Homo sapiens: one gene and its partners. The protein of the gene in region 1 purifies or fractionates together with the protein of each later gene. This does not show direct contact. Each region holds a gene or a part of one and is shown in the gene's direction. Other genes may lie near its edges.

Region 1 (4,060 bases):
ATGTTGGCCAGGATGGTCTCGATCTCTTGACCTCATGATCCACCTGCCTCAGGCTCCCAAAGTGCTGGGATTACAGGCGTGAGCCACCGCCACCAGCCTGTTCACCCATTTTTAAGCCAGATTGTTGGGGAGTTTTTTTGCTGTTAAGATGTTTGAGTTCCTTGTATATTCTGGCTATTAATCCCCTGTCAGATGAATAGTTTGCAAATATTGTCTACCCTTCTGTGGGTTGTCTTTTCATTCTTTTTTTTTTTTTTTGGAGGCAGAGTCTCCTTCTGTCACCCAGGCTAGAGTGAAGTGGCATGATCTCAGCTCACTGCAACCTCCACCTCCTGGATTCAAGCAATCCTCGTCCCTCAGCCTCCCAAGCAGCTGGGACTACAGGTGTGTGCCACCAGGCCCAGTTAATTTTTCGTATTTTCAGTAAGGATGGCATCTCACCATGTTGCCCAGGCTGGTCTCAAACGCCTTAGCTCAGGTAATCCACCCACCTTGGCATCCCGAAGTGCTGGGATTATAGCGTGACACACTACATCTGGCCTCACTCTGTTGATATGTTTCCTTTGCTGCGCAGAATCTGTTTAGCTTAATATAATCCCATGTTTATTTCTGCTTTTGTTGTGTGTGCTCTTCCAGTCTTATCCATAAAAATCTTTCCTCAGACAAATGTCCTAAAGTGTTTCCCCTATGTTTTCTTCTAGTAGTTTTATAGTTTTAGGTCTTACATTTAAGTCTTTGATCCATTTTTAGTTGATTGTTGTATAGGGTGAAAGGTGGGGATTTAGTTTCATTGTTTGTATTGATATCCAGTTTTCAAAGTGCCATTTATTGAAGAGACTGAACTTTCTCCAATGAATGTCTTTGGCACCTTTGCCAAAAATCAGTTGGGTGTAGACATGTGGATTAATTTCAGGGTTCTCTCTTCTGTTCCATTGGTCAGTGTGTCTGTTTTTATGCCAGTACCATGCTGTTTTGATTACTGTTGTGTTGTCATATATTTTGAGGTCTGTTAGTGTGATGCCTCCAGCTTTGTTCTTTTTTTCAGGATGGCTTTGGCTATTCATGATCTTTTGTGGTTCCATACAAATTTTAGGATTTTTTTCTTCTATTTCTGTGAAGAATGTCATTGGTATTTTGATAGGAATCCACTCTGTAGATTGCTTTGGGTCATATATAAATAATTCTTTTTTTTTTTTTTTTTTTTTGAGACAGAGTTGCTCTATTGCCCAGGCTGGAGTGCAGTGGTGCAGTCTCAGCTCACTGCAACCTCCTCCTCCCAGGTTCAAGCAATTCTCCTGCCTCAGCTTCCTGAGTAGCTGGGATTACAGGTGCCTGCCACCATGCCCAGCTAATTTTTGTAGTTTTAGTAGAGACGGGGTTTTGCCATGTTGGCCAGGCTGGTCTCGAACTCCTGACCTCAGGTGATCCACCCGCTTTGGCCTCCCAAAGTGCTGGGATTACAGGTGTGAGCCACCGCGCCCAGCCATAAAGAATTCTTAAACTTGAAGTTGGTTGCCATTAAGAGCTTGAAGACCATGGACTCATTGATTATTATAGATATCATTAATTTTTAGTTAGGCTAAAAATACACATGACTGTTTCAAAGTATATGTAATTACAGAGGCTTTGAAAAAGACAGTATTCATGTGCTAGAGCCCAATCCAGAAGACTTAAGTTAAACCAATGTCAATGTCAATGTCTCCTTAGAAGTGTTAAGACAGGTTGGCTTGTTCTGATGTTTATTGCAGTTTGAATGGAGAGGCACAGTGAGGTTAGGGGTAACTCAGTTAACTGGTGTCCAGATGGGGCCCTACAGGCTTGTATAATAGTACCTTATTTAGACACCATATTCTAGAGTATCATCATGTACTTGGAAATTCAATTGCTAATATACTAAGTGGTGGTCAACTTTGAGGAAATTACTCCTGCTTAACAAACTCCCAGAAGACAGAATGCCCTCATTTTGATTTATAGTGACATTGTGTCTGTGTAGGTACATCCACATGGAACACCAAATCATAATCAGAATATTGCTTACTGAGTAGAAAATGGCGGGGAAGAAGAGTTGACTAGGTGATCGCGGTGGCCAGGGACATCAAGCAGAGACGCTTATGGTATCTCAAACACTTACTCGGTGGAAGGTGCTGGATGCACCGCCAATGTTTGCTTTTCAGCCTCCGTTTTCTAGGCTTCATTTCTGATCAACATTCCTTATGGTCAATTCAGTCTTTTTTTGCCTAAGTTGAGTCCTTCAAGGTCAGCATTAATACTTGGTCTGGTGGCCATTTGGTGTCCTTCAATATGCTTCTAAATATTCTGCTCTGGTTCTTCATGTCTGTTTTTCCCATTTAACTTTCTTTTTGGGAGGCCCCATGTACAATACCAAGATTTGTATATACATATATATGCATAAAAGTATCCAAATACTTTATACTGCTTGTACATGATTTAAATATTCAACAATCAGCTGGGTGTGGTGGCTCATGCCTATAATCCCAGCATTTTGGGAGGTCAAGGCGGGTGGATCCCTTGAGGTCAGGAGTTTGAGCCCAGCCTGGCCAACATGGCAAAACCCCATCTCTACTAAAAATACAAAAATTAGCCGGGTGTGATGGTGGGCATCTGTAATCCCAGCTACTCGGGAGGCTGAGGCAGGAGAATCACTTGAACCCGGGAGGCCGAGATTTCAGTGAGCCAAGATCACACAACTACACTGCAGCCTGGGCAACAGAGTGAGACTCTGTCTCAAAAAAAAAAAAAAAAAAAAGGAAAAAGAAAAAACATTAGCTGGCTGTGGTGGCACATGCCTGTAGTCCCAGCTACTTGGGAGGCTGACGTAGGAGAATTGCAGAGGTTGCAGTGAGCTGAGATCATGCCACTGCACTCTAGCCTGGATGACAGAGCAAGACTCCATCTCAATAAATAAATAAATAAATAAATATTCAACAACTTAAGAAATGGGGTAAGTAGTTCTTATCTGTTGTTTGCTTAAGAGTATGAGAATCATCGATCCTCATGCTATTGCTGATCTGAATTGCTTTTAACTTTTTCTTTCAGATTAAGAATGACCCAAAATAAATTAAAGCTTTGTTCCAAAGCCAATGTGTATACTGAAGTGCCTGATGGAGGATGGGGCTGGGCGGTAGCTGTTTCATTTTTCTTCGTTGAAGTCTTCACCTACGGCATCATCAAGACATTTGGTGTCTTCTTTAATGACTTAATGGACAGTTTTAATGAATCCAATAGCAGGATCTCATGGATAATCTCAATCTGTGTGTTTGTCTTAACATTTTCAGGTTAGTACATCTTTCGGCCTAACCATGACGTAAGTATAGGGCCCTTTTAATTTGGCTACCTTGGTAATGGTAGTCGATGTGTTTGTGATGCTTTCATTCCCTTATACGCCTGTTGGTCCTTCCTAGCCCTGACTAACAGGGTTTTCAGAGCATTGAGGATTGGCAAGAAACAAAAGGCACTGAAGAAAAAAAGCCTTATTTGCCAGCCATGACAGCCTTCAGTTTAACACACATGTATTAAACATCTGCTGTCTGCACACTCTTAGGATTCTGTAGATTCCCTTAAGGAGTGCAGTCAACCTCCTTTTGTGAGGATGTGAGGATATAGTCACTGTCTAAGAAGCAACATCAAAAAGTTGCTGATGGCCGGGCACAGTGGCTCACACCTGTAAGCACTTTGAGAGGTCAAGGTGGGTGGATCAGTTGAGGTCAGGAGTTCAAGACCAGGCTGGCCAACATGGCGAAACCCCATCTCTACTGAAAATAGAAAAATTAGCCAGGCACAGTGTTTTGCACTTGTAATCCTCAGTACTTGGGAGGCTGAGGCACGAGAATTGCTTGAACCCAGGAGGCGGAGGTTGCAGTGAGCTGAGATCACACCACTGCACTCCAGCCTGGGCAACAGAGCGAGACACCATCTCAAAAAAGAAAAAAGTTGCGGCCGGGCGCGGTGGCTCACGCCTGTAATCCCAGCACTTTGGAAAGCCGAGGCAGGTGGATCACGAGGTCAGGAATTCGAGACCAGCCTGACCAACATAGTGAAA
Region 2 (4,060 bases), on another chromosome or scaffold:
TTGCAGCTCCCTGGGGCTTGTGCTGTGAGAAGTGTATTTCCATCTGGCAGCTGTGGGGAGGCCTCATGAGGAAGGCATTAGTAAGTTTATGGGCAGAGATTGGGAACTCGACTATTCTGTAGCAGCTCTTCCCCTTTAGAAAGCAATCACCAAGGAGCAGCCTCTAATGTCACACAATCACAGGGCGTTGCCTCAAGGAGGGGGCTGTCCCATCATTATCATGACTCAGCCCATCATCTTAGTTTTGAAAGTGGAACTCGCAACACTGCTGTCCCCAGTTGTGTACTTGTCTTTGTCTTCACCCTGGAAGTGGACTACTTACCTGTGAGCTGTACTGGCCATCTCCAGATGTGGGACTCGGACACAGCACGGACAGGCTTTTGTGTAGGGGTGTGGCTTCTCTTCCGTTGTTTGGGATTAGCCCTGCATTTAATTAGGGTCTTTGTAAGTGTTCTAGAGGCTTTTCTTAGAAATCCTTCTCACACCTAGCTTTGCTTTGCTTTTTCTTTTCTTTTCTTTTTTCTTGGTAACTCACAGAACAACACCTAGCTTTTCTATCCTTAAGCAAAACCCACACATTCACAGAATTTCCCCAAGATTTCTTACATTTCTCTCTTAGGTGCTTCTCTCTTGTCCCTCTGCCTTTTACTTTTTTCCTTCTCTATCCCCTTGTCTTAATGAACTAGGGCTGCCATGACAAAGTACCACAGACTGCGTGGCTTTAAACAACAGAACATATTGTCCGTCAGTTCTGGAGGCCAGAAGTGCACAATGAAGCTATGGCCAGGGCCGTGTTCTCTCTGAAGGCTCGAGGAGAGGCCCCTTCCTACCTCTTCTAGTTGCTAATGGTTGCTGGCATCCTGGCGTTCCTTGACTTGCAGCTGCAGTACTGCGGTCACATGGCTGTGTTCTCTCTGTCTTCACGTCATCATCCCCCTTGCGCTCTTCACGTCATCATCTCCCTGCACGTGTCTGCCTCAATGCAAGTTTCCCCCACTTTTTTTTTTTTTTAGTGAGATGAAGTCTCACTCTATCACCCAGGCTGGAGTACAGTGGTGTGATCTCGGCTCACTGCAGCCTCCACCTCCCGGGTTCAAGAGACTCCCGCCTCAGCCTCCCGAGTAGCTGAGATTACAGGCACACCCTACCACACCCGACTAAGTTTTTGTATATTTAGTAGAGACGGGGTTTCGCCATGTTGGCCAGGCTGGTCTCAAACTCCTGACCTCAGATGATCTGCCCCCCTTCAGCCTCCCAAAGTGCTGAGATTACAAGCATGAGCCACTGCACCTGACCAAGTTTCCCCTTTTTATAAGGACACCTGTCATATAGGATCAGGGCCTGCCCTAATGACCTCATTTTAACTCAGTTTTCTTCATGAACACCCTGTTTCCAAATAAGGACAGATTCTCAGGTACCACTGGTCAGGACATTAACATATCTATTTTGGGGGGACAGTTCAACTTAAAACACCCCTCAATTCAGTCTACAATCGAAGGTTGGTTCCATTCTTGAATTCCCCAAATGGACACAAAACCCTTTACGTGAGTCACTGATTGGTGCCAGAGTTTGTGTTCTCCATGCCTCACGACAGCCCACTGTTCACCTACTGATGGGCCCTCCTGTGCCATTAGCGTTCAGTTACCACGTAAGGAGGCCCCCCACTCTTCTCTGCTTCTGCCAGGGAGAGGAGGTTGGGGAGAAGCAGGAGGCACACTTGAGCATAGCCTTGAGCCTCCCGGGTGCAGAGCCTGGTCCCCGCCTCCCTTCCTGGAGTCACCGTCAGCTGGGGTGGGGGCCAGGCTACTTCCTGCAGCGGCTTGACAAGCAAAATGCAATGTGAGGTGATAAACATGGAATCTGAGACAGGGCCGTGGAAAACGGTTTTTTGTTGAGCGTCGGGGCTGCCCTGTTAGTATTCCTTTTATAATTTTGTGACTGCCATAAAACTGTTTAGGGGTCCCACAGCATGGAGATCTTTTGTATTAAACAGCTTTCATAAACCCTGAATGAGTTCCAGATTCTGAGACTCCGGAACTTCAGTCCCCCTCCTTTTCTTTCAGTGGTTATGTGTTTTTTTTGGGAGTTTTTTTTCTCCCTTTGTTGAGGTATAATTTACATAAAGTAAAATGCTGTTCTCTTAAGAGTACAGTTTGGTAAGTTTTGACAAATATGTACAAAAAATCCCATGTAACTACCAAACAGATTCAGACATAGAATATCTCCATTTCCCCAGAAAGTTCTTTTGGGACCCTTTCTAGTCAACTACCCCACTCCACCTCAGAGACAAAGAGAAATCAGAAGAAATCTGATTTCTATCACCATGGATCAGTATTTCTTTTAAAAGTAATTTTATATCAATGAAATGCAGCATGTGCGCTCTTGCATTTGGCATATTTCCTTCAATATAAAGTTTTTGAGATTCTTCCATGGTTTCGCATGGATCAGTGATTTTTATTATCTTTTCTTGCTAAGTATTCCTTTGTGTGGATGGCCCACGTTTTGTTTATTCTTTCTTCTGTTGATGGTCAGTTTTGGCTATTATGAATCAAACTGCTACAGATGCTTTTGTGTAAGTGTTTTTGTGAACATGTGTGTTCATTTCTGTTGGATATATACCTAGGGGTGCAATTGCTGGGTCGTAGGTTAGGTGTTTGTTTATTTTATTAGGTGCTTGATTATGGCCCTCTTAAAAGGGGGGAATCAATCCCATTTGTAAGCCTCCTGTTCTCTGCTTAGAAGATTTTTCCGAAGCTTGTTAGCTATAGAACTGCATTACTTTGTTTTAGAAGAAAATACTATTATGGGCACTGGTTCTCACTTTGGATTTGTGTAATTTTCTGCTGGTCCTGGGCCCCTGGCTTTTGTTAAAGGTCTTTTCTTCAGGACCTGCTCAACTGAGATTCCCTTAACATGCAGGGTCACTACTGACTTTGAGTCCAAACCAGCAGGCCTATTCATGCTGATGAAAAAAGGGAACAGACTTGCTTGCTAGCCAGATAAGCTTTTAGTTGTCCAGCAAGAGATCTGTACATTTATTCATAATTGTTCTTTTTTGTGTGTGTGATAAGGTCTTGTTCTGTCACCCAGGCTGGAGTGCAGTGGCACTATCATGGCTCACTGCAGCTCTGACCTCCCCAGACTCAGGTGATCCTCCCACCTCAACCTCCCGAGTAGCTGGGACTACAGGCATGCCCACCACACACAGCTAACTTTTGTATTTTTGGTAGACACGGGGTTTCATCATGTTGCCCAGGCTGGTCTCTAACCTCTGGGCTCTAGCAGTCTGCTGGCCTTGGGCCTCCCAAAGTGCTAGGATTACAGGTGTGAGCCACCGTGCCCAGCCTGTCATTTTGTTTTTTGCTGATTATTTAGTCAATGCCATAGAATGTTGGGAATCCTTCTAGATTATTAAGACCCTGGGCTCTAGCATGCAGTCTGCCCATTGCTGATACCAGCAGACCTCATAGTCTGGTTCTGGTTCTCTGGGTACTCAGCAGCACTGAGGGTACATGTGGGCCTTCTGATTGGGCTCTGGAGTCTCAGTGAGTTGTTTCCTTGTAGGTCCTGTTTTGCTGCGTTCCTACTGTCTCTATGTTCTCCTGCTTGCCATCAATGGAGTGACAGAGTGTTTCACATTTGCTGCCATGAGCAAAGAGGAGGTCGACAGGTGGGTAACCTAGCAGGTACACCTTTAATCATGGCCTTCAGCCAAAATGAAATAACTTGTCAAGCTTTTTGCTTTTCGTTCTGAACATGCATTTACAGATGGCTGTTTTAGAGGCAACACTTAGTCCACCAGTGTGGTGCTCCCCTGGGATCTCTGTGGCACCAGCATGGTTCAGCAAGTGCTCCCCACTGTAGGGCTGGGAGGCAGCAACTACTCTTTGCCTCCCCTTTGTGGAGGAAGAAACATCGGCTCTGAAAGGTTACATTAGTCCAGGTTTGCAGAGTCAGGCACCAGACAAGCTAGATTTCCATTCCTCCACCTCCTTGCTCACCCCAGAAGAGTGGTCCTCCAGTAAGTTACTGAGGAGCTTCTTCAAGATGCACATTCCTA
Region 3 (4,684 bases), on another chromosome or scaffold:
ATCCTCCATTATCTGTGGGAGATACATTCCAAGATCCACAGTGGATGCTTGAAACTGAGGATAGTATAAAACTCTATGTATACTATGTTTTTTCCTACACATACATACATACTATGATAAAGTTTCATTTATAAATTAGGTACAGTAAGGGATTAACAACAATGAATAATAATAAAATAGAACAATTATAAAAATAGACTGTAATAAAAGGTGAATATGGTCTCTCTCTCTCTCTCCAAATATCTTATTGTTCTGGCCTCACCTATTTTCAGACTGTGGTAGACCCTGGGTAACTAAAAACACTTAAAGCCGGCAGGGCGCGGTGGCTCACGCCTGTAATCCCAGCACTTTGGGAAACCGAGGCAGGCGGATCACCTGAGGTCAGGAGTTCTAGACCAGCCTGGCCAACATAGTGAAACCCTGTCTCTACAAAAAATACAAAAATTAGCTGGGCATGATGGTGCGCGCCTGTAATCCCAGCTACTCAGGAGGCTGAGGCAGGAGAATCGCTTGAACCCGGGAGGCGGAGGTTGCAGTGAGCCGAGACTGCGCCACTGCACTCCAGCCTGGGTGACATTGCGAGGCTCTATCTCAAAACAACAACAACAAAAAGTCAAAAAGTGTGGTGGACAGAAGAAATAGGAGAGCAGGTAAGGAAATGGTGGGGTGAGGAGCAGATGAGAACAGGTATTAAGTAGGATGGTCAGAAAGGGCCTCAGGGAGAAAGTGAGAGCCCAGCAAACACTGAGGGAGGTGAGGAAGTGAGCCAAGCAGCCAACCGAGGGAAGAGCTTTCTGGGCAGAAGGAATGGCTGGGGCAGACTCTGAGCCTGGAGGTGGAAAGGTGTCTGGCGATTTCTAGGAGGAGCAAGGGTTTTGGGATTTGGCTGTGGTTGGATGTTAGGTTTTAATTATAAAAGGATCTGCGTTTTTCACAACTTGAAAGTGAGCTACAGTTAAAATGAGACTTGTTCTTATACCTGAAAGTGACCAGAAAATTAGGTTCTGGTCTTTAAGAGATGGAAGAGGGAAATGTGAAGGGGCGTATTCCTTTCCCCTGCCCCGACCGCTCGCGGTTGGAGAGCCCAGCCACATGCCGCCCCGGCTCGGAGTGACAGCCCAACCAGGCCTCTGCCTTCTCGGCCGCGCCTCTCCCGCTGCCGTCCGGATTTCGATGGGTGGTACAGTACGTTAGGCACGCCCCTCCCTTTCTCCCGGCCTGGTCTCCTGTTCCAGGCGACAGCCCAATGAGGGCTGCCTTTTTTTCTTCGGACCGGTTCCAGTCTAGGTTCTCGTCCACTACGATCGCCCAGTGAGGCCCCGCCCCTCCCACCGCAGTTCCGCCCCTCCCGGAGCTACCGCCCAGTGAGGCCCCGCCTCTCCCGCCGCGGCCCCGCCCCCCTGCGTGTGACCGCATCTAGGCCCCGCCGCGTCCGCCACGCCCAGCGCTCGGCGGCGCCCGCCCCACTGGCCTGGCCCGCCCCCCGCACCGAGCACTCTTTCGCCCGGCCTCCGGTTCTCGCCGGCTCTCGGACCCGCCTCCGAAGACGTGGAGCGCTGCGGCGGCTGGTGAGTCGGGGAGGGCACCTCGGACCCCCCAGCTGTCCGCAGCAGAGCCCGGCCCCTTGCAGCCACAGAGCCCCGGCCGCTGCAGGCTCCAGGAGCTCCGCCTGGTCGCCGCCCTGCGTTCCCGGGCCGCCTCCCGGTGCCAGCACCCCTGGGGATGGGAAGTGGGACCAGGATGGGCGCGGGGGCTGTGGGGGCAGGGACGAGTGAAGGTGTTGCGGGGAGCGGCGGTCGCAGGGGAGGGGAGAGGTTTGTGGAGGGGATTATGGGTCTGGGGCGAGGGTTTGAGTCCTGAGAGAAAGGCGGTGAGGCGGAAATTTGGGGCTGGTGAAGTCAGGATGGAGGATGTTGGGGGCCTCAGCGCTTTGGGGAAGGAGGCAGTGAGTGGGGTGGTCGGCGGAGCGGAGTGAAGGGTGGTTTTTAGAAGGGTCAGCTCGCGGGTCCCGGGGTTCTTGCTTCCCGGGCAGTCCGGGGATCAGGGCGGACTAGGCTGTCTCCAAGCAGGTTTGGCCGGAGCGGGCTTGCAGGATAATGCTCACATCGAGGTGACTGAGTTTCCAGGCTTTTGACTGGGACATACTGTACAGTTTAAATAATAGATACCTGTCTGGCTAGTGCCTGGGACACCTGAGAAACGTGGATGGAATGGGGTTCTCCCCTATAGGCAGCGTCTGATTTTGTGGGTGCCTTCACAGCACCAGCATTGGTGTGCGCTGCCTTCTGTAAAACCTTATATTCCAGCAGGACGGTGTATGGAGATCCCAGACTTAAAAAGTGCAGCTGAGGTTTATTCAGACTCAAGACACAGTTGTATCATATTGCCTTAAATCCTGCGGAGTTTAAATCTAATCCTGTGGGGTTTAAAGCGGTTAAATCCACTTTGTAGTGTCTACTTTTAATTTAAAGTCATACAAATCTAGAGGACTAGATGTTTTCTAAGGGCCCATTCTGCATGATAAACAGTTTAAAATTCGCTATGGAAAGTAAATCATCTGTTCTGAACAGCTGTTGCTGAAAGAATCGTAGAGTTGCAGATGAATGAAATTTGAAAGATCTAAAATAATGGAAGGGCATAGAAAAGTCTTGATAAATTGAAGTGTGTAAATGCACTTAAACCCACTGAAACTTTTTTCTTTTTGTTTTTTTTGAGACGGAGTCTTGCTCTGTCGCTCAGGCTGGAGTGCAGTGGCACAATGTCTGCTCACTGCAACCTCCGCCTCTCGGGTTCAAGCGATTCTCCCGAGTAGCTGGGATTATAGGCGCCTGCCACCATGCCCGGCTAATTTTTGTGTTTTTAGTAGAGATGGGGTTCCACCATGTTGGCCAGGCTGGTCTTGAACTCCTGACCTCAGGTAATCCTCCCACCTCGGCCTCCCAAAGTGCTGGGATTACAGACGTGAGCCACTGTGCTGGCCAACTTTTTTCATTGTAGACAACTTGGAAGACAGAGAAAATTATAAGGATGAAAATTAAAATCTGTAGTTTTGCCACATGTAATAACATTTTGATGCATTTCTTCCTAATTTTTGTATTTTTGTGTATATGAATGTACACAAAATTAGGGTAGTATTGTTACCTAATTGGGGTAATATTGTTATATTACTTCATACTTTTGCTTTTTCTTTCCACCTTACATTTTCTCACTTAGCATTTTTGTGGATCAAATTCTTCTTAAACATCTTTGAAAATGCTTGTATAATCATTCATCATGTGGATTCATTCTTTTTTTAAATATTAGAGTTTTAGTTATGTGCCTAGTACTGTGCTTGGAGGTGAAAAATCAGTGTTCCTCAAATGGATATATTTGTCATGGCTTGCATGAGAGCTGTACTAAGCCTTTTTCTCATCTGTCAGTTAAATTGTCTCTAGCCTTCTGTTTTTATAAGCAGTAAACCTTTGTTTTAATGGTTAAAAGCTCACAATAAATCTCATGTCATGTGTGAATCCAAAACTGTTATTTTTAATGTGTATGAGTTTTTGTGTGTATGTGTTAGGAAATTACGGAATTTTGGGTGGAAGAGGATTTTTTTTTTTTTTTTTTTTGGACAAGGTCTCACTCTGTTGCCCAAACTGCAGTGCGTGCAGTGGTGCAGTCACAGCTCACTGCAGCCTTGACCTCTGGGGTCAGGTGATCCTCCCATCTCAGCCTCCTGGGTAGCTGGGACTACAGGCGAGAGCTTCACCGTATCCAGCTAATTTTTTTTTTCTTTTTTTTTGTATTTATTGTAGAGACAGGGTTTCGCCATGTTGCCCAGGCTGGTCTTGAACTCCTGAGCTCAATAGATCCACCCCCCATGGACTCCCAAAGTGCTGGGATTACAAGCCTCAGCTACTGTGCCCAGCCCCTGGAAGAGGCTCTTTTTAAAAAGTTTCTTGTTTTGAAATAATTTTAGATTTACAAAAAGTTGCAAAAATAGTACAAATTTCCTTATGCCCTTCACCTAGCTTCCCCAGATGTGAACATCTTAGATGACGATGGTGCAATTGTTGAAACCAGAAAATTGACATTGATACAATTCTATTAGTGTAATCTACAGACCTTATTCAAATTTCACTAATTGTCCCACTAATATTTAGGATCCAGTCTGAGATCCTACACTGTATTTAGTCGTCATATGTCCTTAGCCTCTTTTAACCTGAGCATCCTCCTAAACAGGATGACCTGGTGCAGACCTGTAAAGTGAAGCAGGCCTGCTAGAAAGCACACACCTCCCCTGAATTCATATCCAAAACCTATCCCTTAGAAGGGGATATTTATCTTCCTTTTCTATATGAATAGACTACTGTTTGATTAAGATGTATAACCATAGCTGGGCACGGTGGCTCACGCCTGTAATCCCAGCACTTTGGGAGGCCGAGGCAGGCGGATCACGAGGTCAGGAGATCAAGACCATCTTGGCTAACACGGTGAAACCCCGTCTCCACTAAAAATACAAAAAAAAATTAGCCGAGCATGGTGGCGGATGCCTGTAGTTCCAGCTACTCGGGAGGCTGAGGCAGGAGAATGGCGTGAACCCGGGAGGCGGAGCTTGCAGTGAGCAGAGATTGCTCCACTGCACTCCAGCCTGGGCGACAGAGCGAGACTCTGCCTCAAAGAAAAAAAAAAAGACGTATAACTA
Region 4 (4,060 bases), on another chromosome or scaffold:
TGATATAAAGCACCTAGTTCAGTGTTTGGCACATAGCAGGTAAGAGGCAGTATTGTTGGTATAGTTATTTATCTCCAGTTGCATTCTAAATTTATGACAAATTGAGGGTGCAGCTTCAGGATTAGTGACACTAGAGGGTGCTGGCATGCAGCATTAGTAGGGTTAGTAAACCCCTTTGTGACACCAGGTTTCTTTATTTTTAAGAAGTATTTTCCCTGGTATAATAATTTCACAATTATACAACATCTCATAATTTTTAGAATAAAGGAATATTACAAAATTTCAGGTTATTACTACATTATAATAGTGTATATCTTAGATTAGAAAATAGCAGAGCCTTGTTAGAAATTACAACATTTTATGTGTGTCTAATTAGTATAGTTACTAGTAACTATATAAAACTTCTTTTATTTTAAAAAATTTGATAAATTGACTAAAAGATGGTATGTGTCATTTTTCTTTCCCTCTTGAGCTTTTCTGGGTTAACATCTCAGGGTGGGAACAAAATCAAATCTTTGGAAAATCATAGACTGCTTTTATGAACCTTAAATGATACTTTTACAATAAACTCAGATTTATATAACCTTTTTTGAGCAAACATTTCAAAAAACAATGCATTTCTTGGTTCCTTTATAATTTTACTGGATGCTCAATAAATAAATTGTTGAATGAAGTAAGGAATAGTCTTCTGAAGAGGCTGTCTCCTGTTTTTCAAGAAGATCCATAGAGTTTATCTCGTTCCTGAAACCTCAGGGTGGATAACAGAGCCTGGACTGCCCTTCAGTTTCATGCACATATTCAGCACGTTAGCCCAAGTTAACATATGTCCTAATCATACACAGCAATGCATATGTATGTACCTGTAGAATTTTAGAGCAGGAGGATATCTATGAAGAACCGGAATATGTAGATAAGAGGTTTCATGGAGGGGAAGGTACTTGTGTTGGAATATGAAGACTGGGTAGAATTTGCTAAGGGGAGTAGAAGTAGATCTATGTGAGAAGAAATTATAAGAAAAATACAGAGGTGGAAGTGAGTATGCTGTGCTTGTGGATTCTTGAAGAGGGATAAGGCTTATTGGAATATAGAATATAATGGAAAGAAAAGTTGACTAGATAAGGTGAGATGGCCATATTACAGGAAGTATAGAATATTGGAGAAAATAGTTTAGATTTGATATGAGAGAAATAGGGTGTACAACTGTAAATTTTAGAATAGAGGAGTGATATATGAACCTGCTTTGGAAAGATTTCCTTGATAGCTTTTTACAGGATAAATTGAAAGGAAGGGGAGAGACCAAAAAAAAAAAAGGCCAACCAGGAGGCCATTAGTGCTATCAAGGTATGAGGTGATGGCATGGGAATGAAGCAGAATGGATAGATACAAGTCATTTTGAAGAAAAATACATGCTTAATATTACCTATGAAGAATTAAGGAGAAGGAAGAGCCAGAGATAATTGTAAAATTTCAAAGCCACATGTTAGTACCATTAGCAGAAGTTAGAGAATCAGAAACAAGTGTTATATATGAGGTGGAAGATTATGAGTGTACTTTAGGGCAGTCTGAGTCTGCAATTCCAGAAACATTCAAGTGGAAATTATTGTAGTTAGCAAAAGCCTGAAACATGAGTGAGAAAGAAGACTAGCAATTTGGGGTGGGATGGGAGGTGGGGGCGAGGGTGTTATCATCATCATTGGAATGCTGGTTAAAAGTTCTGAGAGCCTAAAGAAGTCACAGCAGAGTACTAAGACTGGAGCTTTTGGAGAAGTTCACAAAGGATGGGAGGAGCCAGCATGGAAGATGAAAGAGGAGAAGCAGCGGTCAGTGAAGTAGGATGCTGTAGTGTCAGGAAAGGTCAGATGTGGCAGAGAGATCAAGGAGAGTGAGGCAGATAATTGGCTGCTGAATCGGTTTAGAAGTTCATTGCAGGCCTTTGAGAGAAATTTTGTGGGGCAAAAGTGAGATTGTATTGTGTTTTGGAGGAAGTGAGGGAAGAACTGGAACATGTCTTCTTTGAAAAGTATTGACATTGAAAGGATCGGGAGGTGAGAAGATGAAAAGAATGAGGGACAAAAGATGAAGCAAACACTTCAAAAGAGAATAATAGCAATAACAATAACTTTTAGGTTTTATTTAGTGTTTATGATGTGCCAGGCACTATACTATTTGCTTTACCTTTATTGTTTAAACTCTATGACAACCCCAGGGAGTAGACATCATTGTAGATAAGGACCTTTGGAGATTGCTGATGGCTGGTGAAAGGTGGAGGGGTTGGGATGCAAAATGAGAGGAGAAAAAACACCTCAAAACTGGATGTGGAAAGGTTGTGTCATAGAAGACAGGATTTGCTTCAAGGGAAGGCAGCAGAAAGGATGGCATTGGGGCCTTGAAGAGAGGAGAGAAATTTGGGGACTATCCCTAAAGATCTTTTGGGAATTAAAATGTAAATAAAGAAATAACTGGGCAGTGCCACAGACCTAGTTCAAATCAGATATGCTACATTTTGAGTAGTACCTTGTGATTATGAATCAGAATCTAGATGTAATATTGAAACAAATATGTGGATAAAATCAAAGCCAAGAGCTTCAAGAACATTGAGGAACTAAAGGATACCTCAATATGCTATGGAAAATGGATTTGGAAAGGGCTGAATTATGATGGTGACAGGGTGAGGATGAACTAATCTGGAGCAAGTGAAGCAAATCATTCAGGATGGTGACCTAAGTCCATGGCAGCCAGCTATAATAGTTTAGTCTTAGTATTTTAAGGAGGTTTTCAGATTGTTCAATTAGGGGGAAGGGAACTAACATTTACTGAGTATCTAAGGTGCCATACTTTATATATACATTATTAAGCCCTACAAATCACTTACAAGATAAGTATTAGCTCCTCCATTTTCCAGATGAGAAAACCGCGGTCACATAGTCAGAAACTGGCAATGTTTGACTCCAGAGCCCATGTTTTTTCCATGTAATGCTGAATAGCATAGGTTATATGGCCAAATTGTACTTTTTGTTTTTAACAATAAATTTGATTTTGAAAATTTATATAAATGATAGCATGTTTTCAACATATGGGTGCTTATTGTAAAGAAAGCCAATCCCCTTGGCATAATGAATACTCATCCTCAAAGTGTCTGAAATTTGGATTTTTGTCTAAAGGATTTAATTAAAGACTTTTTTTTTTCTTTGCATTAACATCCGGTTGTCCTCATGGAACCTATGAATTTTGTGGCTGATATTGCAGGTTGGTAACATTTTATTTTCTGTTATTTTAGATTCATTGGTTTTCAATTTTCAACTCCTTCATGATGGTGATCTTCTTGGTGGGCTTAGTTTCAATGATTTTAATGAGAACATTAAGAAAAGATTATGCTCGGTACAGTAAAGAGGAAGAAATGGATGATATGGTGAGTAAACATTTACATTATATTTGTAGAAACATTTTAACTGAGTGTTAAGTTTTAAATGTTGGGAGGTAGGTCATAATTTCTTACCGGAAGTCTTTGAGTTTCCACAATTCAGGATTTTTAGAGTTAAGAAAGATGTAAAATGCCCAGTGTGGTCTGTAACCATGCCCTGTAATCAAATAATATTAATTTTTTTTCAGGAAAACATAAGAACATTCACCCGAAGTGGGATAAATAAATAGTGTAACCTCTTGTTAGTTCAAGCCAAGTTTTGCCACCAAGTAAGAATATGTCTAATACTGTTAAATACTGCTTAAAATTCAGGGAATGGGTAGAAGGATTAATTTATGTTCAGTTTAGTGGGTTCAGAGGAAAGATTTGTTTTCTAAGTTCTTTTACTAAGTTAGAGAACAAAAAGTGTGTTACATAGAGTGCTAGCTAATGGATATTCGGTATAGGTATACTGTATCATTAAATAAATTTAGGAAATTTGTTTTAAGAGACAGGCTGGAGTGTAGTGGTGCGATCATAGCTCACTGTAACTTCAAACTCAAGAGCTCAAGTGATCGTGCCACCTCAGCCTCCTGAGTAGCTAGGAATACAGGAACAAGCCCCCACCCCTGGCTATTTTTTTATTTATTGTAGAGATAA
Region 5 (4,060 bases), on another chromosome or scaffold:
TACTAATTAGTAAGCAAAGAAATGCACATTTAAGGAAGACAGTGCACATTTAAGGAAGACAGTAACCTTTTATCTATTAGAGAAAAACACACATTCTGTCTTTAACACACACATAAATCTTATATTGGCAGGGATTTTCTTTATTCAGCAATTATTTATTGGTTGTCTGCTTTGTGGTACACATAAATGCTGGGGATAAACACTTAATAAAATATACTTCCTTCTCTTGAATATCTTGCACTTTAAGTGGGAAGGTAAGTCAACAGAGTAGAGGTGATATATCCAAGTGATAGACTGTTTCATTGCCAGTAGCAGTATAAAATCTTAGAAATCTTTTGGAAAGCAATTTGGATGTAAGTATTGCAGAGCCTTAAAAATGTTTATTTGCTTTGACCTAAAATTCCTTTTTTATTTATTGCAAGAAAATTATTCTAAATATGGGAGAACAAAACCTTCATGCTTAAAAGTGGTTATTTTATCTTATAATGTTGAAAGTTGGAAACAGTCTTGTTAGCCATAAAGGAATGATTACATGAACCAGTAAGCTGGCTCAGTAGAATATTTTATTTAGCCCACTAAAAAAGTCAAAGTTGGCCAGGTGCGGTGGCTCACGCCTGTAATCCCAGCACTTTGGGAGGCCAAGGCAGGTGGATCATGAGTTCAGGAGATCGAGACCATCCTGGCTAACATGGTGAAACCCTGTCTCTACTAAAAATACAAAAAATTAGCTGTGCGTGGTGGCGGACACCTGTAGTCCCAGCTACTCAGGAGGCTGAAGCAGGAGAATGGTGTGAACCTGGGAGGTGGAGCTTGCAGTGAGCCGAGATCAGGCCACTGTACTCCAGCCTAGGCGACAGAGCGAGACTCCATCTCAAAAAAAAAAAAAAAAAAAGTCAGAGTTATGAGTTCTCTGATTCAGTGTTAAATGGAAGAATGTCTAACATAAAATTGGATATACAGTCTTCCCTCAGCATACTCGGGTTATTCCATGACCCCATCCTCCAGCATATACCCAAATCCATGCAGGCATGCTCAGGCCCCACAGTTGACCTGTGGAACCAGGGTATATAAAAAGTCAGTCCTCCTTATGAACTTTTGCGTTGGAGAATACTTGTTTTTGTTTGTTTGTTTGTTTTGAGATGGAGTCTCGCTCTGTTGCCAGGCTGGAGTGCAGTGGCGCAATCTCAGCTCACTGCAACCTCTGCCTCCCGGGTTCAAGTGATTCTCCTGCCTCCGCCTCCCGAGTAGCTGGGATTACAGGTGCGCACCACCACACCCAGCTAATTTTTATATTTTTAGTAGAGACGGGGTTTCACCATGTTGGCCTCAATTTCCTGACCTTGTGATCTGCCTGCCTCGGCCTCCCAAAGTGCTGGGATTACAGGCATGAGCCACCGTGCTCAGCCAGAATACTGTATTTTTGATCTGCATTTGGTTGAAAAAAATCTGCATATAATGGGCCTGCATACTTCAAGCCCTTGATATTCAAGGGTTGTTGTACAGGATAACATTTGATATTTCTGGGGTTGTGTTCCAGAAAAAATATAAACTTTTCCATGGGTAGAAGGGAGAAAGGGGAGCAGCTGTCAGGGAGGAAAATTACTACAACACTTTATCATTAGTCGTTTTTAAGTAGTGGAATGTTAAGTGATTTTACTTTCTAATTGTTTCATTTCATATTTCCTTATTTTCTTTAAGGAGCATGAATTACTCTTTAAAGGAGTAATGAGGAGGGAACTTTCATAAATATGTAACATTATGTTCTCACTTCCTCCACTAGAGGGAGAAACAATTTCATGTAATTGTGCTTTGATGTGATTTTTAGAACTAGTTAGGAATGGAGGATTTTATTCTTCTTTCTCCAATTGTGATAAGTTTTTTGCTTATTTCCATGTTTGGTTAGAAGTTCTTTGATAACAGTTCTAAATATTAAAACCATTATATAAATAATAAGTAGAGGAATTTTGCAATTTCTTTTTCCTTTTTCCCATAAAAACTTGGTTGGCTTTAACTGATAATGAAACATTAAAGAATTTGTAGTTATTAGGGCATTTACTGATTTTTCAAATGTGTTCTGAGTATAAAAATATATGCCCTTTGAGAAAATTTTTGAAAATCGTGAAAAACATTGAGGGAAATAAAAACCACCTCTGCATGGTACACACACCTGGATATTTTGTAATTTGCCCTTTTATCTTAAAAAGATATCAAAATATTTTGTCACATCATTGAATGCTCTTCCACATCAGAGAATCTTACTTAGCTTATGGACCATCTCCCAAGAAAAACGACCATTCATTAACTCTGGTTAAGACCCATATCATTGTTTTTAGTGGCTCCATAGAGCATTTCATCATAGGGATGTGCTATTTTTTTTTTTTTTTTTACCAATCACAATTTGGAGGCTTTTAGTTGTAAACAGTCCTGTGACATTATGTTGGTAGATAAATCTTTGTCCACATGTTTGGTGATTTCCTTAAGGTAAATTCCCAGACATTGAATTGGTAGTATTTACTAAAGATTACTCCAGAAAGTGGCACCAATTTCCTTTTCTAATGTAAGTGTATGGTAGAGTTCCTTCCCTCAACACTCTGGAGGAATTGGAGAATCTCCATCATGTCTAATTCCTTTTGTATTTCAATCTTTACCAGAAAGAGCCCTGTCCCTTTTAATTGGTTACTTGACTTTTAATTTGCTGTTACATAATTCAGGTGTGTTAAGTGTGTTAATAGGGCTTCCTATTATAAGGGATCCACAAATAAGAATAGAATTTCTTTTTCATAGCCTTAATTTTTATTTGACTCAATAAATATATGTGTATGCCTTCTATGGTGAGCTGTCATAAATTTATTTTGGAAAGAGTGGAAATAAATCTGTAATGTGCGAATCTGATGTTTTTGGTAATTAATTTCCCTAGCATGGTATGATATTATACAAGCAGTAGGCTATAATCCTGATATCTGAGTTCACTTCTGGCTCTGTCCCTAAACACTTGGTGAGCTCAACAGCTGGAAGAGTTTTGGGGATCATATTGGGAATTAATTATAATATTTACTTTATTACTTAATACTAGGAAAAACTGGAGGAGTGCCTAAAGCAGTTAAAGGAAGAAAGAGTGATAAGGCTTAAGGTTGATAAACGAGTCAGTGAGGTAAATAAAAGTTTTCTTACCTTTTGAGAGTTTTTTGTTTTGGTTTTGGTTTAACTTTAAGTCATACATACACACACTTTATAAACTTTAAAATGAGAAAATATAGTGTATTGCAAATGGTCACAGTATGTTAATGTTTGTATTTACTTATATTTGGTGACCGTGTGATCTGTATTCCAAAAAGCATGTTTTTTAAAAATGTAAAAATTGTAGTTTGTTTTCTTTTCCTCTGTTTTTATATGACTGGAGCTTATTTTCTGTTCATGATGCATCAATTCAAGAATGCATTTATTAGGCTTATACTGTATATACAATTGCGTAAAAGATGGGGATGAGACTATCTACTGAAGGGGAATTAGGAAAATGAATAAATAAGGTAAAAGATAATGGAAAACCGGTAAGAATGCAATGAAAGATAAAAATCTATACCATGAGGACTAAATTAGGTGAATGTGCATAAGAGCAGGGCATAAACTAGAAAGTTCTACATAACTATAATTTATTATTACAAAGCAAGTTTAAGGAGGAATTTTTGAAAGTATATGCATTGGTTTGAAAGACAGTTAATCATTCAATAAAGGTTGAGCACCTGATTGTATAAGGCAAAAGGTGCTTTGTGAACACAGTGGCCTTTCTGAGAAATACTAGAGTTAGACTTATGTGTAGTATTAGATAAATAGATTTGGTGTACAGGAGAGTACATATTTTCAAGAAGCAAAGGGGCAATATTGGTAATTGTACAGTTAGTAAATTGGGTATGATTTAGGACTTTTAAATTTATATATTAAGTATTTTACTGGCAAAAATTAGTCCTTAACAGCCAAATTGTAAAATGCTTACTCTTTATTTCATTGTCTAATTTAAGGGAAACCTTAAACAGCTAATTTTTAAATATAGAATGATCCAGGT
Region 6 (4,060 bases), on another chromosome or scaffold:
AATTACTTTCATTTATTTATTTACTTACTTAAAACAGCTTGATAAAGTTGGAAAAAGCAGGACCCTAAATAATAAATATATTTGCCATCAGCCTTTTATAGGAAAACTCAGAAATAATAAGTGGAAATATTTAGGATGTCACTCATCAGACTTTTTTTTTGAATATGTAAATGTGTTTTTTTGAAAATTTAAACACGCAAAGTAAAAATTAAAAGTTTTGGTTAAGTTGTGAATTTCAGAAATTTATCTTGGTTATGGTGTCCTGAAGTTAAAAAGAATAGAGCATTAGTACATTAGTACATAAACGTTCTGTTATTCTCTGCCTAAGGGCAAGATCCAACTTTGAACCAGGTCCTGGATTTCCTCTCATCTTAAATCGGAGCCTTTTTCATTTGTAGTATAAATAAATTAGCCTTTTGATGCTGTGATTTTATTTGTATATGTTATATATGAGATTTATATCTCTCTTTGTATGCAGGCATTTCACTAGATTTTGTTTGGCCATCTATTTTTAGTGTTTCCCTAGCAGCATGTTTGCTTTACCTGCCTTCATCTAGGTTTCTACATCATCAGGGGTGGAAATATTAGTTGGCTTAATTAAGCTTGGGAGTTGTACCTTACTTGCTCTGTTGAGTGTCAGTTCTACCTTCTTTTGAAGCAGGCAAAAGCAGTTCATGGCACAAATGCCAGAAATAGCATGCAAACCACTTTGTAGTGGTATGCAAACTAATTTCTGCTGTGTCCTTTTCTTAATGCTTGTGAGGGTTACTGTTTACTTAAGAGTTAATATTTGGCTTATGAAACTAGTATCAGATGAGAAATTCCAGCATCCCTCCCCACCCCAGAGAAAGATGTGGTCATTGGGGACTGCTCTGAAGTCTGCCAGCCCTCTATCCTAAAAGTTGGTAGATCAGTTATTATATCTTGATATGTACCCCTAATTCATATGAGGGGCCAAGAGAGATTAGTTACTCCTGATTTCATCTGTTAGAAGATAAAGGGAGTGTGGTTTGTATCTATATTAGAGTAATGGGAATGAAGGGTAGGGATGGATGACAGAGATATTTTACTCCTAGGAAAAATCAGCAGGACTTGGACAGTGACTAGATACAGAGAATTAAGGGAATAGTTGAATCAGACATGACTGCAAGATGTCATTTGGGTCAGTGAAGGTGCCATTGATTGTGGTTGAAGGAGTGAGCCGATTTAGGGGCTGGCTGAAGGGAATATATAGGTCAGACTGTCATGATGTGAGGCTCATATAGCTATGCATGGAGAGAGGTGTTAAATCAAGCACCAGGATTCAAAGTGAGCTCTTGAAGGCAGAGACCTCAATTTGTCCTTTATTCATCTTGAACAGACTCTGGGACGTACCTACTGTCAATTGAATGAAAATGCTGGCTTCTTCCTTCTAAGTGGTTCTCATCTCAGGATTGTTTTGCCCCCGGGGGACATTTGGCAATGTTTAGAGAAATGCTGGGTTGTCACAACTCAAAGTATGCTACTGGCATCCAGTGTGTAGAGACCAGGGATGCTGGTAAGCATGCTACAATCCGTAAGACAGCATCTTCTACCTCCCCCCGCCACCCTCAAAATTTTTTAGCCCCAGATGTCAATGGTGCCAAGATTGAGAAACACTGTTCTAACAAACGGCAAGGAAGTTGACTCCTCTAAGCCTTGGTTTCCTCACTTGTAAAGAGATTATGACTACTTCAGGTTTGTTAGAATTAGACCAGGCAGGGTGTGTACAAGTGCCTGGCATGAAAGAGCCTCTCAGCAAATCCTAATTTCCCTTACCTTACTTGATGAATAGATTTAGGGGAGTTACTTTTGGTCTTTTAACTGCTAATTTCAAGGCTTCACGTTTTTTTTTTTTGTTTTTTTTTTTTTTTTTTTTTTTTTCTGAGAGGTGAGTGGGATGCCTAGGAAACATAGAGTAGCTTTTATAATCTTAATGCTTTTCTCATGGTTTTATCAAATTATGATTTTGATTATACTTTGGTTTGGGTTTGTACTATTTCAGGATTCAGTATTTAGTGTTCACCTAGCAGTAGACAATGAAGTTAAACCCTTAGTGTAGATCAATGAAGTTAAGCCCTTAAATTTTACTTTTTAGCCTGTAAATACATTTTATGTATTATTTATTGCTCACAGAACTGTTATTGTTTGGAAGCAATTTTACTATTCTTTGAAATCAAGACCAAAATGTACTGAATTTTATTTCTCATGGAAAATGCTAGACCTCCTATGTCTATTGCCTTTTTCCTTTTTATCCATTTATTCTAACTAGACCCCCCCCGAAGTCAGAACTCTTCCTTAGATTTCCTTTTTAGGGTCTTCATTAGGTGGCTTTCTTTTGCTTGTCGGGTGTCTTTTTACTTTATTTTGTAAGGTGTTGAATATTCCCTTTATTTTGTAAGGTGTTGAATGTTTCAGTGGTGTTAGGGACAGGACCACCGATATTTTCATCTCTAATACCAATCCCTTAGTGATCTATTCCAGTCATAGCCTCAGTGTTTAAAGTCTCCTTACATGTACATAGTTGTGTGGCATTCTCATTTTTAGGGAGTCACTGGAATTCTTTGCTGCTATTTCTTTCCTTTTAGGAAAAAAACCGGTTTACTCTTACTATACATTATTTTCTCCATCTATAGAATGGAATTACTGTAGGTAAAAGTCCTTGAGTTCGGTAAACTATGTATTGGACTTACTAATGTACGTTTTATTAATTGCAGGTGGAATTTAGAAATAACCTGCCTGTTTTTCATCTTAAACTAAGATTATTTAAATATTCCATTCATTAATTAGTTGGTTAGAAAAATTAGCTTTTGAGGAACACCACTTAAACATGGAAAATAATAACAGAGTACATTTTGTGACAGCAAATAAATTATCGGTTAACTTAACCCTATAGGATTCAAAGTTGGTAGCTTTAAATGATATTAAATTGTATTTGACTGTCAACTGCTTTTAAAGGCTTACGTGGCTCCCCATTGTACCTGTAGTTATTTAGGTCTGGAAGCACAGGGTGTTAAGAATGCCACCATAATGTCTTTTCATAAGGGTTTGGTTTGTCATAGCCTGTAAAATTAGGTTCACCAGTTAGCTGCTTTATGAAATGAATGTCATTGGTCATGGTGGGGGAGGTATTAGGAGAAGGTATAAAGGAATCTAAAAAAACTTTCTTTCTTTCTCTCCCTCCCTCCCTTCTTTCCTTCTGCCCCTTCCTCCCCCCTTTCCTTTCCTTTTTCCTCTTTCCCCTTTCCCATTTCCCCTTTCCCCTTTCCTTTCCTTTCCTTTCCTTTCCTTTCCTTTCCATCTTCTGTATTGCTAGTAAAATAATTGTTGCTCACTGAAGGCTTTAAAAAACACTGGTTGCATGCTTAATATAGGATGGCAACAAAATGGACGGGTTTAAAAAATATGTAGATGGTATGATACCCCTTTCCTCCATCCTTGTACCAAATTTCTTTCAAACCTAGAATAATTTATACAAACAGATGTATCAGTAGATGGAGTATTATGCCCACTTTTTAATTTAATGATCAAAAAATGCCAAATTCTTCCCAGAGTGGCAGTATAATTCAGATGTAGTTAACTGTTGGATGCAAATTCAATTATGGTAGAAAGATTTACTTTACTTTGAGAGGTTTTTCTAAAATCTTCTAAAATTATGTTGATTTTTAAAATTTGAAATAACTTTAGACTTACATAAAAGGTATAAAAATAGTACAAAGAGGTCCTGGATATCTTTTGCCCAGTTACTCCTAATGTTAACATCTTATATAACCATAGTATAATTATTAAAACCAGGACATTCACATTTATAAACTATCCTTTTTCTAGTTCAGGATCCAATTTGGGATCCTACCTTGCATTTAGTTATCATCATGTTAGTCTCCTCCCATCTGTTAAGCTTTTCAGTCTTTTTTTTCTCTCATCTTTTATAAATGTTACTGACACTTTTGAAGAGTACTGTTAGTTATTTTTTAGAATGTTTCTCAATATGGGGTTGTCAGATCTTCACCCGTGATTAGCATGTCTTATGATGGGTGAAGTT
Region 7 (4,060 bases), on another chromosome or scaffold:
TTTTTTTTTTTTTGAGATAGAGTCTTGCTCTGTTGCCCAGGCTGTAGTGCAGTAGCACGATGTTGGCTCAGTGCAACCTCTGCCTCCCGGGTTCAAACAATTCTGCCTCAGCCTCCCGAGTAGCTGGGACTACAGGTGTGTGCCACCACGCCCGGCTAATTTTTTATATTTTTAGTAGAGAAGGGGTTTCACCGTGTTAGCCAGGATGGTCTTGATATCCTAACCTCGTGATCTGCCCTCCTCAGCCTCCCAAAGTGCTGGGATTACAGGCCTGAGCCACTGCGCTCGGCTGAAATCATTCTTTAAAAAAAAATTTTTTTTTTTTTTTTCATTTTAAGTTCAGGGGTACAAGTGCAGATTTGTTACATAGGTAAACTTGTATCAAGGGGGTTTGTTGTACAGATTATTTCATCACCCAGGTAATTATTAAGCCTAGTACCCATTAGTTGTTTTTCCTGATCCTCTCACCCTCCGAAAGGCCCCAGCATGTATTGTTCCCCTCTATGTGTCCATGTGTTCTCTTCATTTAGCCCCCACTTATAAGTGAGAACATGTAGTATTTGATTTTCTGTACCTGTGTTAGTTTGCTAAAGAAAATGGCCTCCAGCTCCATCTGTATCCCTGCAAAGGACATGGAAATCATTCTTTTCCATGCAAAGAACCCCTTTTTTTGTATTTTAATATGGAAATAATTTCTTAGATTCAGCTTAATTGGAAAGCTATTATTTAAGGTCCTGCAGATGTGTTGGTGAAACACATCTGACTTATGGGATATATGATAATTCATTATTATAAACTTTTTTTTTGTAAGGCTTCCAGACAAGCTGCAGGAATTCCAGGGATTACTCCAACTGAAGAAAAGTGAGTAATTATTTTCTTGGAATTAAGTAGAGTTAATTCTTCATTATTGATATCAAGACTAAACCATATTTTTAGCCAATCATGGTAGCTGTTGCCAGCTACTGAGGAGGTTGAGGTGGAAGATCGCTTGAGGCCAGGAGTTTAATGCTTCAGTGAGCTATGATTGTGCCACTGCACTCCAGCCTAGGCGACAGAGCCAGACCCTGTTTCTAAAAAAAATAAATAAGTAAAAAGAAAACTAAGGTTATTTTGTGGTAGGACTAGGCAGACAGATGGAATAGAGTAGGTAGTTCAGAAGACAAACCAAAATGATAAACCATATTTTTAGATCACTCATCTTATTCAATTCAATTCCTTTGATTGCCCTAAATTTACCTTGGCATGTAACCTAAACTTTGTTAACAGAAAGGAGGGTCGTGTAAATCAAAACATTTCATTGCTTTCACTTCCCCTTGCCAGAGAAAGCTGAAAAGAGGATTAAGATAGAAGGAAAGAAGGAAAAGATTGCCATAGCTGATCTGATGATTTTCACCAGCCGATGATGTCCATTGTCATCTCAGAATTAGGTGCTGGGAAAGTGGGATAGCTTTCCAGTATCTAAGTCGGATGTTCCTATGGAGCTTTCTTATTTGGTTTGAAGTGTTAAGAATTCTTAAAATATCAGACAAATCCATATCTAAATATAACTATAGAAATATAGCAAGAAGGCAAATATAATTGAGTTTTGGATTTTGCAGTAATTTGAATTTCATGAACCTTTGTTCTCATTTATTGATACAGTTAATTCAGAGTCAACTGTTGTTTTTCTCATTTTTCCAAATTAAATTGATTATTTTGTCAAATGTTGCTCTTTTGCCAGAGATGGTAATCTTCCAGATATTGTGAATAGTGGAAGTTTGCATGAGTTCCTGGTTAATTTGCATGAGAGATATGGGCCTGTGGTCTCCTTCTGGTTTGGCAGGCGCCTCGTGGTTAGTTTGGGCACTGTTGATGTACTGAAGCAGCATATCAATCCCAATAAGACATGTAAGTTTAATTTTCTTTCTAATTACCTGATCCTTACCTTTTAAGAATGAATGTTTAGGCTGGGCACGGTGGCTCACACCTGTAATCCCAACACTTTGGGAGGCTGAGGCAGGTGGATCACATGAGGCCAGGAGTTCGAGACCAGCCTGGCCAACATGGTGAAACCCCTTCTCTACTAAAAATACAAACACTAGTCGGGTGTGGTGGCACACACCTGTAATCCCAGCTACTTGGGAAGCTGAGGCATGAGAATCTCTTGAACCCCGGGGGCGGAGGCTGCAGTGAGCCAAGATTGTGCCACTGTACTCCAGCCTGGGCGACAGAGCGAGACTGTCTCAAAAAAATAAAAAAAGAATTAATGTTTATAAATAAAAACTGTATATATATATTGTTCTTGGATAGGAATAGCCAACATTTATTGAATGCTTTGTACTATGTGCTAGGCACTGTGCTGATGTCTTATTGCCTAATTTAAGATAGTATTTTAAATAATTGTGTTTTTCCTTAATTTATAAGCATATATGATAAAATCTCAGTGTAAATTCCAACAGGATTTTTTTGGGACCCTGAAAAAATAGTTCCAAGGTATATCTGGAAGAGTAAAGAGTAAATGTACATGAGCAACCAGGAAACAATCCTAAAAAGAGTATTAATGGGCTGGGCATGGTGGCTCACACCTGTAATCTCAGCACTTTGGGAGGCCGAAGCAGGTGGATCATGAGGTCAGGAGATCGAGACCATCCTAGCCAACATGGTGAAACCCTGTCTTTACTAAAAATACAAAAATTAGCTGAGCGTGGTGAGGTGTGCCTGTAGTCCCAGCTACTCGGGAGGCTGAGGCAAGAGAATTGCTTGAACCTGGGAGGCAGAGGTTGCAGTGAGCTGAGATCGCACCACTGCACTCCAGCCTGGGCAACAGAGTAAGATTCCATCTCCAAAAAACACAGAATATTAATGAGGGAAATACTTGTACCATCAGTTAGTATAGAGTATTATAAAGCTAGATTAAAGAATCTTGTATTGGCCAGGCATAGTGGCTCACACCTGTAATCCCAACATTTTAGGAGGCCAAGGTGGGAGGATCACTTGAGCCCAGGAGTTCAAGACCAGTCTGGGCAACATAGTGAGACCCCATTGCTACAAAAAATACAAAAATTAGCCAGATGTGATACATGTGCCTGTAGACCTAGCTACTTGGGAGGCTGAGGTGGGAGGATTGCTTGAGTTCGGGAGGTTGAGGCTTCAGTGAGCCAAGGTTGCGCCACTCTACTCCAGCCAGGCAGCCAGGGGACAGGGCAAGAACCTGTCTCTTGAAAAAAAAGAATCTCCTGGCCGGGCGTGATGGCTCCTGCCTGGTGTCCCAGCACTTTGGGAGGCCAAGGCAGGCAGATCACATGAGGTCAGGATTTCGAGACCAGCCTGGCCAACATGGTAAAACCCTGTCGCTACTAAAAATACAAAAATTAGCCAGGCCTGGTGATGTGCGCCTGTAATCCCAGCTACTTGGGAGACTGAGGCAGGATAATCTCTTGAACCCGGGAGGCAGAGGTTGCAGTGAGCTGAGATCATACCACTGCGCTCCAGCCTGGGTGACAGAGGGAGACTCCATCTCAAAAAAAAAAGACTCTCATACTGTGGTCAAGCTAGGCAAACAGATGTAAAAGAGTAGAGAGTTCAGAAGACAAACCAAATATGTATGATAAAGATAGCATTTTATGACAAAAGGGAAAAGTAATAAATGTTTTGGGGAATATTGGTTAGCTATTTGTAAAAAATAAATCTCAATCCCTGCCTTATTCTATTCCCCCCGCCCCGCCCAGCTTTTGCCCAGGCTAGAGTGCAGCAGTGCTATCATAGCTCTCTGTATAACCTACAACTCCTGGGCTCAAGCAATCCTCCCACCTCAGCCTCCTGAGTAGGTGAGACTATAGGCATGCACCACCATGCCTGGCTAATTTATTTACTTTTTAGTGGAGATGAGGTCTTGCTACGTTGCCCAGGCTGGCCTCCAACTCCTAGACTCAAGCGATTCTCCCACCTCTGCCCTCCAAAATGCTGGGATTATAGGTGTGAGCCACTTCACCTGGCCTCTGCCTTATTTCTTATATAAAAATAAATTCTAGATGATTAAAATATCAGGTCATAAAGGTAATACAAGAAAACATGGTTAAAT

What was found.
Region 2: the proteins of SLC16A6 (region 1) and RFT1 purify together in Homo sapiens (affinity purification with mass spectrometry; one large-scale study listed by BioGRID and IntAct). This does not show direct contact.
Region 3: the proteins of SLC16A6 (region 1) and ANO10 purify together in Homo sapiens (affinity purification with mass spectrometry; one large-scale study listed by BioGRID and IntAct). This does not show direct contact.
Region 4: the proteins of SLC16A6 (region 1) and TM9SF3 purify together in Homo sapiens (affinity purification with mass spectrometry; one large-scale study listed by BioGRID and IntAct). This does not show direct contact.
Region 5: the proteins of SLC16A6 (region 1) and CEP78 purify together in Homo sapiens (affinity purification with mass spectrometry; one large-scale study listed by BioGRID and IntAct). This does not show direct contact.
Region 6: the proteins of SLC16A6 (region 1) and ATP2C1 purify together in Homo sapiens (affinity purification with mass spectrometry; one large-scale study listed by BioGRID and IntAct). This does not show direct contact.
Region 7: the proteins of SLC16A6 (region 1) and CYP20A1 purify together in Homo sapiens (affinity purification with mass spectrometry; one large-scale study listed by BioGRID and IntAct). This does not show direct contact.

Annotation. Positions count from the first base shown.
Region 1 is NC_000017.11:68,277,325-68,281,384, reverse strand, and holds part of SLC16A6 (monocarboxylate transporter 7), read left to right. Parts: intron 1-272; exon of another isoform or gene 273-384; intron 385-458; exon of another isoform or gene 459-478; intron 479-3,057; coding exon of another isoform or gene 3,058-3,064; coding exon 3,065-3,296; intron 3,297-4,060. UniProt on the Homo sapiens protein: Monocarboxylate transporter selective for taurine. May associate with BSG/CD147 or EMB/GP70 ancillary proteins to mediate facilitative efflux or influx of taurine across the plasma membrane. The transport is pH- and sodium-independent.
Region 2 is NC_000003.12:53,098,991-53,103,050, reverse strand, and holds part of RFT1 (man(5)GlcNAc(2)-PP-dolichol translocation protein RFT1), read left to right. Parts: intron 1-3,564; coding exon 3,565-3,670; intron 3,671-4,060.
Region 3 is NC_000003.12:43,618,793-43,623,476, reverse strand, and holds the start of ANO10 (anoctamin-10), read left to right. Parts: upstream 1-1,465; 5' UTR 1,466-1,568; exon of another isoform or gene 1,569-1,704; intron 1,705-4,684. UniProt on the Homo sapiens protein: Does not exhibit calcium-activated chloride channel (CaCC) activity. Can inhibit the activity of ANO1.
Region 4 is NC_000010.11:96,552,277-96,556,336, reverse strand, and holds part of TM9SF3 (transmembrane 9 superfamily member 3 precursor), read left to right. Parts: intron 1-3,277; coding exon 3,278-3,409; intron 3,410-4,060.
Region 5 is NC_000009.12:78,259,834-78,263,893, forward strand, and holds part of CEP78 (centrosomal protein of 78 kDa), read left to right. Parts: intron 1-3,073; coding exon 3,074-3,151; intron 3,152-4,060. UniProt on the Homo sapiens protein: Centriole wall protein that localizes to mature centrioles and regulates centriole and cilia biogenesis. Involved in centrosome duplication: required for efficient PLK4 centrosomal localization and PLK4-induced overduplication of centrioles.
Region 6 is NC_000003.12:130,900,421-130,904,480, forward strand, and holds part of ATP2C1 (calcium-transporting ATPase type 2C member 1), read left to right. Parts: intron 1-4,060. UniProt on the Homo sapiens protein: ATP-driven pump that supplies the Golgi apparatus with Ca(2+) and Mn(2+) ions, both essential cofactors for processing and trafficking of newly synthesized proteins in the secretory pathway.
Region 7 is NC_000002.12:203,245,035-203,249,094, forward strand, and holds part of CYP20A1 (cytochrome P450 20A1), read left to right. Parts: intron 1-811; coding exon 812-861; intron 862-1,720; coding exon 1,721-1,887; intron 1,888-4,060.